2 separate regions of the Homo sapiens genome follow, and region 2 is linked to region 1. A link means that fine-mapping ties the variant in region 1 to the expression of a gene that starts in the linked region. Tissue or cell type: whole blood. Region 1 holds a variant in brackets; the other region holds the start of a gene. All regions are shown on one strand. Distances are between the middles of the regions.

Region 1 (5,183 bases):
ACATGTCTGGGTGATCTATGGCTCTCCTGCATTTGGAGGTACGTCTAGCTCCAGCCTGTGACCCTCTGGAGGACCAGTTCTTCGGCCTCATTTTCCTCCCCTTCAAGCTCCTGGACACCATCCCTTCCCCATGCCAGCTCTTCCCCATGAAGAGCGCAGGAAGAACCCCCTCAGACCCACTTTCTCACCTGCCCAGTCCACGCCCAGAAGGCCATCTCCTCAGATGATCCCAACACATCCCTGGCCTCAGGCCAAGAGGAAGCCTCATTTCACAGTCTAAGAAATGGAAGCCTCACAGGACACCGAGGTCTCCCCAAGACCAGCCACAAGTCTTTCTGCTGGCCTAGAGGGCTGGCCAGGAGGGAGTGAAGGGAATTGACCCTGGGGAGTGGGCAGGTGAGAGATGGGTGGCCAGGACAAGGGTGGCATTGCCCTCTGGGGGCAGGTGGAGCTGGGGCAGCTAAAAAATGGGGTGGCATCCCTAAAAAACAGACGAGGACACAGCAGCCAGGAGGGCTCCCTGGCCCAGGGGCATTTGCACAAAAGTCTAAGCCGACGGCCAGCACTGGAGGCTTTATTGGTTCTGTCTAGTCATTTCTCTGGGATTGTGGGGGCTGACAGCTTAAAATGGATTTTCACCAATAATGGATTCTCTTTCTCTTTTCCTGGCGGCACTGAGCTGCAACACAAAAGAGAGAGTGTCACTTGGGCCCCAGAGGGTGGTTGAAGGAGAGGGGTGAGCCCAGAGGCCCCTCTGAAGAGGTCGCTGGGGGTAAGGGGTCTTCTGCTGCTGCCCGCGTCTGGGCAGCTGAGATTACATTCTGTGTCCATTCACTACCAGAAAGCAAGGTGTACTGGAGAGCCCTGCACCCTCATTCTCCCCTCAAGAAAAGTGTCCTGGACCCCAGGGTTGGGGCCAACAGGCTTTCAACAGGGCAGACCCCAGCCTGAGCATTCCCAACCTTGGTGAGGCCCGACCCCCAGGGTGGAAAGCCGCCTAATGCCAGTGTGGTCCTTCCCATTTTGAACCCAGGCCCCTGTGCCCACCCTCCTTGGTCCCCAGGCCTCCTCCAGCCCTCGCCTTGGCTCTGCGCCTCAGTCCACTGGAACCTCGTTCCAACAGCCTTTATGAGGTCACTGAGGTGGAGGCGTCACAGCCCACCACATCCTGCTCCCAGGCCCTCATTCCACTGTTCCCCACCCCTACCCAGCTGTGTGAGGACCCCTGCCACGTTCTAGCACAGCCCCTCTATGGGAGCTGCGGGGCTGGCCTCACTCACTCTTCCTTGCTTCCCTGCAGCAGAGGGGACGTGGCTGGTGGCTGGAGAAGCTGGATTTGCCCTTTGATGGTGGCCCTCTTGATCCCCGGCTTGCTGAAGTCAAAGTAAGATTGAGCGAAGTTCTTGTCTTCCTGACTCCAAGATTTCAGTGGTGCTCTGGCTTCGCGTGGTTTCTCTGGCAGGGTCTCTGCGTGATTTTCTGGCTCTCGCTCCTCCACAGTGGTCAGGAGGGGCTCTGTGGAAGGCTCCAGAGCCTCCTGGGGTGGAGCTTTCATCATGTGTTCCAAACTGGGCAGGTCCATCCTGCTGGAGGAGGCCATGGCCAGGGAAGATGCAAAGGTGATTAGCTCTGTCAGGTCAATGGGTGGCGGGAGATCTGAGGACAGGAGGGGGCTTGGTGCCTGGGAGCTTGTGGTTGGAGGAGCTGAGTGGGCATCAGGGATCTGGAGCTGCTCCTCGGAGCACAGGGCGTTGGTGGGGATGGCCTCCCGGAGCGGGGATCTGATGGGCTGGCCTGCGCTGCCATTGTTGAGCTGCATGTTGATGGCCCGCTGCAGGCTGTGCTCTGAGGCCTGGATGAGCTTGTTTGCCCAGAAGAGGTGCTTGGAGGTCTGCGCACTGATGGAGTGATGGCAGGCAGACACGTGGTTCTCCTCCGTGAAACTCCGGCAGTTTGAATTCAGACTCCACGGTCTGAAGGTCTGTGGCGTGGGCAGCCCCATGTTGGAGTGGACGGACTCTATCTTGCATACCAGCTGCATGGGTTCTTCAAAGTCAGACTCCTCGTTCGAGTTGGCTTCCGTGTCCAGCTCAGCTTCAAGCTTGAGGGCTGGGTATAGCTCTGACTCCAGTAAAGCCGGCACCTGTCCGATCTCCAGTTCTGGGTCTGGGTCTGGGTCTGGGTCCAGGTCCAGGTCCACTTGGAGTTGGGGCTTCTGCTCTAGCATGTCTGCCTCCAGCTGAAATGTTTCAACTCAAAGCTGAGGAGGCAGGAGCGGGAGGTCCTGCCCCTGAGGCCCTCCCTGGCACCGAGTCCCTGCCCCACCCCTGCCCTGGGTCCTGCTGTCTTCCCCCCGCCCCCTAACCCCATGCCTGCCTCCTCTCAGAGACCTGCCCGGTGAGGGGGTGTGTGTGTGGGTGTACCCACACCGGCCTGGTACTAGGGTCCCAGGATTGTCAAGGGTAGGGGCTGGTGGGGACTTAGGGAAGAGCCCTGCCGCTTGCCTACCACCTCCCCGTAAGAGGACACTCCCATTTTTACCTCCTGTTCCTCTTGTATCTGGTGTTGACTTAAGTCATCTCT[AAGAC/A]AGAAGAAGACAGAGTGGGTGATGGGGATCTGTGGGGCTTCAGCGGGAAGGGGGTTTCTGGGGCCCTCAAAGCCCTCTGCCTTGTAACAGAAGCTGGCACGATGCACCTCCCGCCGACCACCCCGCCACCAGCTCATCCACTCCCCTGCTGTCCCACTCCACTGCCACCAGGAAGTCTGCGGTTGTATTCTGAAACTTTAGTGAGTTTAGGAAGCTGCTTGCCAACTCATGCCCCACCCCCAAAGAGGAATCCAGTTGGTTGGAGGTAAGGCCCAGGAATCTCATTTTTATCAAGCACTGCAGGTGAGCTGGGGCAACTCACTTCGAGGATTAGTGCCCAGAACACTAGTCCCCAGCAGGGGAGCCCCAGAGCAATGTCCTCCCACCCACCTGCCCACTCTTTCTTCAAGTGCCTGCCCACCCCCGCCTTGAGCAGCTCTGTCCTCAGCAAGCCAGGCAGCTCTGAGGGGTCAGGTCCTATCCTGTCCCTGGGTGTGCCCCACCACCCCTCAGTCTTCCTCTCATGCCAGGGGCTGAGGGCATAAACAGAAGTGGGAGGATAGGCGCCCCACGCCCTCCCCAGCCTTTTGGCCTGGACACTGGCCCCGGGGAGGTTTTGGAAATGGCAGAAGGGAGGGAGATCCTAGGCTGGGGGATCCTAGGCTGGGGGTGAGGTCGGAGGTCCTGGAGGGCTCGGGGGAGGCCCTACGTTGATTGAGGATGGTTCTCACCGCATCTCTGCAACCTCCACTGACCCTTTGCCGCAGCATGGAAATCCATGGGCACCTGACAGGGGAAAGGAGGTGAGGGCAGGGAGCTGCAGGGTAGAGGACAGTCCCAGAGGGATTCCGGAGCCAGCCCCCTTTTCCTGCCCTTCTTTTCTCTCTTCCCGGCTGCTATTCCCCCTCACCGTCCTGCCCCGCTCTCCTTGTTCCCGAGCCGGTCGCCATTCCTATCCTCCAGTCCTGCTCCCTCCACTCTCCGTCTGTGCCTTGCCTCCTCGGAGGCTCCCGGTTCCATCTCCATCCCCCAAAACCGTGACTGCTAACAGTACCCTGAACATGACAGAGCGCTTCCATAGCCTGGTCACTTTACCTGCTTTATCTCACTGATTCAACACAAAAAATTAGGACAGGTCCATTTGCCCAAGGTCCCCCAGCTGAACATAGCTGAAGTGATGACTTGAATGCAGGCTTGACTCAGGAAACTCTTAACTCCCTGCCCCCACCGGCTACTCCCAGGACCCTGTAACTGCGTGGAGTCCCAATAACGCCCCATGTGAACCTCCCCCATCTCCCCATTCCTGCTCCTCTGCCGGCTTCCTCTCCTCTCTCTGGGTCATCCATCACTGACTCCAGGCCAAGGCCTGCACCCCAGGTGTGTAATCTGAGGTGGTGCTAGCACCTATCCGACGATTTATGAGCTCAGATCACCCTCTGCAGGGGAGACTGACTCCTTGGGAACGTCCGCAACCCCAAACCCCTCCCTGGAGGCTTGTATCTTTTACTGCAGAAGCTGTTTCTTCACCCTGTGGGAGTGGGAAGCACCAGGCTGCCCTGTTCTCTGCTACCCAGGGCCATGCATAGGGGTTGATGGTGGGGCCATCATGACAACCCTGCCATCATGCAAGGTGGGTCCCCATCAGCCTGGGGTATGGCAGGAAGTGACAGCCCTGGCTCTGGCTGGGAAGAATCGCTCCCAGGATCATATTGGAAGGATGAGAATGTACTGCGGTCTCTTCCTAGAGATGTAGTGGCTGGAGGGAGGGGTCCTTGCATGGCTGGTCTTGGGATTGGGACCATCTGCTTCAGCCTGGTCTTGGGGGATGTATCAGCAGAGTGGCCGGCTCAATGATCTCTTCAGAACCCTCCACCTCCTTGACCACTATGCTTCCCTGGCTTCCTCACGTGTCTCTCTTCTCCCTCTCCAACTCCCCCTGTCCCAGGTCCTGCTGTTCCCCCAGGCTTCTGACCTCAGGGCCTTTGCTCCCTTTACAGAATTTCCCTGGGCAGTTTAATCAACACCCACAGCCTCAACCCCTCCATAAACGGCAGCTGGGTATGGACAGGAGAAGAAATTACTGTTGTGTGAGCCTCTTAACAGCACTGGGGGCTGGGAGAAAAAGTCAGACATTGACTCAGCTTGGGACCTCGTTGCCTGACTTGAGAATGTTCTATTAGGGATTCAAGTGATATTCTGCAGTATATGAAATAATTGAAATAATTTTTTTTGAGGCAGGGTCTCACTCTGTCACCCACGCTGGAGTGTAGTGGTGTGATCTCGGCTCACTGTAACCTCCGCCTCCTGAGATCAAGCGATTCTCCTGACTCAGCCTCCTGAGCAGCTGGGATTATAGGCATGCGCCACGACGCCCAGCTCACTTTTTGTATTTTTAGTAGAGATGGGGTTTCACCATTTTGGCCAGGCTGATCTCAAACTCCTGGCCTCAAATGATCTGCCTGCCTCGGCCTCCCAAAGTGCTGGGATTACAGGCATGAGCCACCGTGCCTGGCCGAAATAATTTCAATTTCCAGTGGTTTGTTGCTAGTATACAGAAATATATCCATCTTTTGTATCCTGCAACTATACTAAAATC
Region 2 (5,124 bases), 34 kb before region 1:
ATCCCAGCACTTTGGGAGGCCGAGGCAGGCGGATCACTTGAGGTCAGGAGTTCGAGACCAGCTTGGTCAACATAGCAAAACCCCGTCTCTACTAAAAATACAAAAATGAGCTGGGTGTGGTGGCACGCACCTGTGGTCCCAGCTACTGAGGAGGCTGAGACTGGATAATTGCTTGGACCTGGGAGGTGGAGGTTGCAGTGAGCTGAGACCGAGCCACTGCACTCCAGCCTGGGCAACAGCGAGAGACTCCATCTTAAAAGAAAAAAAAAAGTCTTCCACGACAGTTATCTTATAGAGACAAGAAGAAGAAGAAAGAAGGAGAAGAAGAGGAGGAGGTCCTAGCTAATCTCAAGGGCAAGGACCCAAGGGCAAGGCTCTGGTCTGTCTGAGAAGGAGAATATGGCAGTGTGCAGGGAATGGATCATTTTCCCTGCATGCCCAAGGAGAATTCTGCTTTGACTCACCTTGGAGGTCCTTGGTCAGGCCACGAAACCAGTGATCACATCTCTCACCCATCTGGGGTGCTGGTGACCTTGGCAGAAGAAAGGCTTAAACCAGGTCAGCCTGGGGGAAGGGGCTGGCTCCTTCCAGGGTCTTCCTCCAGATTAGATGTTAACTCTCCGTCTCTTGCTTAAAGTCTTGTCAGTGGCTCTGAATGTGAGGGCAGAAGGAGGAGGATGCTGTCAGGGGAGGGGACACTAATGGCTCCTGACCTGGCCTAGAGATAATTCGGGGCTCCTTCAGCGGGCCCTCCCTCCTCAGTGCCCTGGAAGTGTAGGGAGGGGTCAGTTGGGGATCCCCACAAATTAAATGGGGAATGAGAGGAGCAACTGAAAGTCTCAAATTCAGGCTATAGATGGGACCCCAGCCCCCCATACTCTCCCGTCCTACATGAGATGGGCAGTGGAGGGCCAGGACAGCAACTCCAAGCCAGTGTAGGTTTTGGAGGTAGACAGTGAGGAGGCTTGCTTCTGTCCTTTGTTAGCTGAGTGCCCTTGGACAGCTTACTTACCTACTCTCAGCCTCAGTTTCCCCATCTCTAAAATAAGGCTACCAATACCTACCTTCTCTGGCCATTGTCAGGATGAATGAAAGAGCTCTGAAAGTATTTCTGTAATTAGCAGACATCAGAGATTGTTATTCTCCAAGGTAAGAGGCCCCCCTAGATCCCTGGCGGTGACAGTGTCAAGATTCTTTTTCCCTCCTCTGCGGTGCCCACTCCTTTTCCAGCCTTGTGGCTGGCTCTCATCCTCCTTTCCGCAACCCCCCACTCCTCCTTGGGACCACCTTGGCGGGCCCAGCTTCTCGCAGCCTGCCATATTCCATAGGTGCCCCCATTCTAAAACCTGTAGGGGTGCCCTGCACAGGCGCACGGTTGGTCGAGGTGGGACAGGTGGCGGGGGTCTCCACTGGCCTGCGTCCGCGCCCCCCACCCTGTTTAGGAGTTCCTGTTTGGAGATGGCTCCCCCTCGTCCTCAGCTCGTCTCTGGGCTAAGCAGGGGAGGAGAGAAATAAAAGGTGGGGGGCCTGGAAGGGGGTTCCCACCTTCTCAGTCCGGGACGCGAGACGGGAACGCAGCCCTGGCGCCCCAACGCTGCACCACCGTGGGTCTCCGAGCCGTGCTCGCAGTCGCTGAGATCCTCGGTGCGGAGAAGATGTGCCCCTCCAATCCCCAGGCCGTGATCCCCTTCACCCAGACCCGGCCAATCCCTCGCCCGAGGCGAGCGGGAGGATGCGGTTCTAGGACCCGGAGGCGCCGCCGAGCGCGCCGCCGCCTCGGCCTCGCCTCGGTGGCCTCCCGCTCCGGCAGGTGAAGCGGCGCCGGCCGCCCCCTCTGCGGCAGGTGAAGCGGCTCGGCAGCCCACTCCCCGCCCGCCATGGTTGCGGGGGTCCCCCGGCCAGCGCCCGCCCCCTCCCTCCAGCCCGCCCCCCTGGGGCTGGGTGCCCGGCGGCGGCGGCGGCGAACTGCGGTTTGCGCGCACGGGGAGCGACAGCAGAAGTTCGAAAATCGCCGAGGGGGGAGCCAGCGCCGCAGCTTCCTGCCCCCGGCCCAGCCCTCTGGCCCCGGCGGCCTGCAGCCTGACTTCCTCCCCCAACCCTGCAGCTCGCCGCCCGGTCCCACGGACGGGGCCGCCCCGATGGGACGCCGCGCTCCGGCCCCTGCGCGCCGCTGAGCCGAGCGCCCCCCGCTGCCGAGACCCCCGCCGCCACCGCCAGCCGCTGCCCCCTCGCCCCCGCCCGGGCCGGGAGCCTCGTCCCCGTCCCCCGGAAAGCTGGATTTCCGAGGCTGGAGGCGCCTGGCCGGCTGGGTGGGGACCACCATGGGCAACGCGGCCGGCAGCGCCGAGCAGCCCGCGGGCCCCGCCGCGCCGCCCCCCAAGCAGCCCGCGCCTCCCAAGCAGCCGATGCCCGCGGCCGGAGAGCTGGAGGAGAGGTTCAACCGCGCCCTGGTGAGTGCGACCCGGAGGCGGGTCGGGCGCGGGCGGGGGGCGGCAGGGGCGCGGCAGGGGCTGGGCGCGCGTCCCCGCCCCCGGGGACTCAGGTGCCGCTTGGAGATCCCCGGTCCGGCAGCTGCCCCCTCCAGGAGGTGGGAGCGACAGTGGCCTTTTTTTCAGAGTGACTTAGCACTCTCCCCCCAAAACTTTCTTCAGTTATCGCCCGGTCTCCCTCCCTAAGACGCCTCCACCCCAGCTGGGTCTTAAGGTCTAAACAAGTATGTCCTGTGAAGAAGTTGGGAGCGGGGCACGCACAGGGGTCCCGGGTCGCCCCCTTCCCCACTGCACGCAGGCCCAGCCACCGGGCGCGGGTCTGGGGCATCTGCCTTTCTGTGTCTGGAGTCAAAGATGAAAGGGTTACAACCTCCCGGGAGCGGGAGACCTGCTGGAGGTGTTGGGTCCTGATTTGTTGGGCGCCTGGGCTGCGGGGAATGGGGTTGTCGGATCATGGCCAGGAGGTATCTGTGTTTCTACCCCGCCATATGTCAGAGCCAGGGTGCCTGTGGGTCTTTATCTTGGGGCATCCTTTCCAAGCCACTGAAGGGAGTAAGATGAGGGAGGGTGGGGTCAGGACGGGTGGGTCGCCCAGGCTAGGGGTGGAGCAAAATCTGGAACCACCCCCCTCTGTGCCTACCTGGGGAATTGGAGCGGGGTCGCTGGGGAATAGGTCTCTGGGAGGGAACCAGCAGCTCAGGCCGAGCCTGGAAACAGTCAACATGTTCAGTGGGGTGGGGGCTCCAGAGCAGACTCAGGGGTCTCCAAGACCCTGCATAAGGCAGAAGTAGGGAGAGGAAGAGCTGCTCACTCTCACTCTCCCCACCCCCGACGCCCTGGCCCTGGCTCCCTCCTCTAACTAATTGCCTGGTGGCCTGCCTGCTGTCAGCCTTCCCTTGCTGGACGCTGGGTGACAGGCAAAATGAGGCTGTGCCTTCTCCCAGATGCATTTCCCAGTCCCTGCAGGTCTGAGGGTGGGGGCTCAACGGAGACACAGGCCGCAGAGGGTTCTGGCTCAGTTGGTGGCCCTCCATCTCCTTGACATCATTTCCCCTCGCCTGGCTGGTCATTAGGCCATACGTGCTAGATCCTCAGCATGGCTCCAGAGGGTCACCTCCTAACAGTTCCTGAAAATGTTGGCTTCTGTCCTCTCCCAAGAGAAGGCTGGGGGGAGTTTGGAGGAGCTATGGGGTGGCGAGGGATCCATCCTTGTGAAGACACCTTGCTTGATTAGAGGAGGGCAGGGACACTGAGGGACGCCTCACACCAGGCTGGCCCCTGACTTCTCCATCTCTCCACCTGCCCTGCTCCCCGCTCCCCAAGCATAGGACTTCACAAAGCTGAGCTGAGCTGAGCAGATGGGGGAGGGGGGAGAATGAGGAGACACAGTCTCTGGGGGCCATCTGGAGAGCCTGCATTGGTGGTGGGTCCTTGGACCCCTGCCAACCTGGTTGGAGGGACATGGGTCTGTCTTTCCGCCAAGTGTGTGTCTATGGTCGCGGGTGTGGGCTCTTGGGGTGAGGTCCTGACCCCAATCTTCTGTTTAGCACGCTGATGGGGAGGAGCCCTGTGAATAATTCAGACCAGGGGAAAATCCACAAGTCAAATGGTGAGGTTCTGATGTGTGTGTAGGACTTGTTTGCCCTGCTTGGATTTGTGGCTGTGATTGGCTGAGTCTGACACTAAATGCCACTGGGAGTCCCTGAGTACCAGGATGTGGAGGGGGGACACCCACAGGTGGGTCAGAGAGGGTGTGCTGGTGGAGAAAGTGGAGGTGCCTAGCAGAAATTTAGGGTAGCAGCACCCACCAGGGCTTACCCCCTACCAGGTGCCCAGGAACCCCAGTGTGTTTATACCTTCTTCCCGGGGTGGCTCAGCCTGTCTTATATCCTGTTGTGGGCAGGTTAAACCCAATCTAAGGACACTTGGCTAAGACCCTGGTTCCTCTCATTCCCCACCAGCAGGGGCATGAGGCTTGCCCCAGGGTGACAACCTTGACCTCTGCCTGAGGCTGCCCAGGGCTAAAGAGTTGGTTCAACCCTCAGGTCTGGCAGTGTGTATCGCAGAGTTGGTCGCTATGTGAACCCCCACCCGAACCACCATGGCCAGAGCTGAGTCCTGTCCTCGGTCAGTGTCTAAGAGGAGAAGAACCTTAGATTGCTGAGGGGAGGGGCCCACCGCCATCAGTGGTCCCCAGTCTCAATGGGAGAAGCACAGTCCTGCCCTCAGGGATGTAGTCCAGCGGCCCCAGGGAACCTCTTCCTTCCCCTTTTGTCCCTGGTGGGGCATAGGATCCTGATACCCCAAACTCTCCTTCCTCTCCTGGCTGTAGGACCTCTCTTGTGGGTGAGGGGTGTCCCCACTTACAGCCAGACAGGAGGTGCAGGGAGCCCTTCTCCCATGCAAGGGTGGGTGGTGGGGGGCTACCTTTCCAAGAAAGCTGTGAAAGAAAGGGGTGCCCCCTGCTTAAAATGGGGGTGGAGAGAAAGAGCAGGTTGAGCCAGGGTTTCCGGCTGCTGCCTTAGCAACAGCAGAGGAGCGATGGCTGCCCAGCCCCACGGGCCTGCTGTGATGGTGGGAACACCAGCCAGCGGGGCGCCAAGCTCTCGCCTCTCCTACGCCCATGCCCAAGGCT

The links. PIP is the estimated chance that this variant, and not a neighbour inherited with it, causes the effect.
Region 2: FMNL1-DT starts here. The variant in region 1 is fine-mapped to the expression of FMNL1-DT in whole blood (TOPMed, PIP 0.98).

Annotation. Positions count from the first base shown.
Region 1 is chr17:45,253,835-45,259,017 of GRCh38, forward strand. It overlaps SPATA32 (spermatogenesis associated 32), which reads right to left. Exons shown (of 5, transcript NM_152343.3): 2 at 3,319-3,373; 3 at 2,542-2,581; 4 at 1,281-2,239; 5 at 559-679. The coding sequence ends at 592. It overlaps MAP3K14-AS1 (MAP3K14 antisense RNA 1), which reads left to right. Exons shown (of 4, transcript NR_110326.1): 2 at 1,301-1,384. Among named protein-coding and RNA genes, the nearest start is that of SPATA32, 5.7 kb to the right of the region's middle. RefSeq lists an enhancer at 2,068-2,828. The variant AAGAC/A (reference allele first, on the strand shown) is at 2,584.
Region 2 is chr17:45,219,804-45,224,927 of GRCh38, forward strand. It overlaps FMNL1-DT (FMNL1 divergent transcript), which reads right to left and starts at 1,962. Exons shown (of 3, transcript NR_147507.1): 1 at 1,546-1,962; 2 at 465-651. It overlaps FMNL1 (formin like 1), which reads left to right and starts at 2,082. Exons shown (of 27, transcript NM_005892.4): 1 at 2,082-2,450. The coding sequence starts at 2,322. RefSeq lists silencers at 1,657-2,106, 2,117-2,166, 2,447-2,556, 2,479-2,773 and enhancers at 2,620-3,120, 3,121-3,621, 3,957-4,026, 4,627-4,676.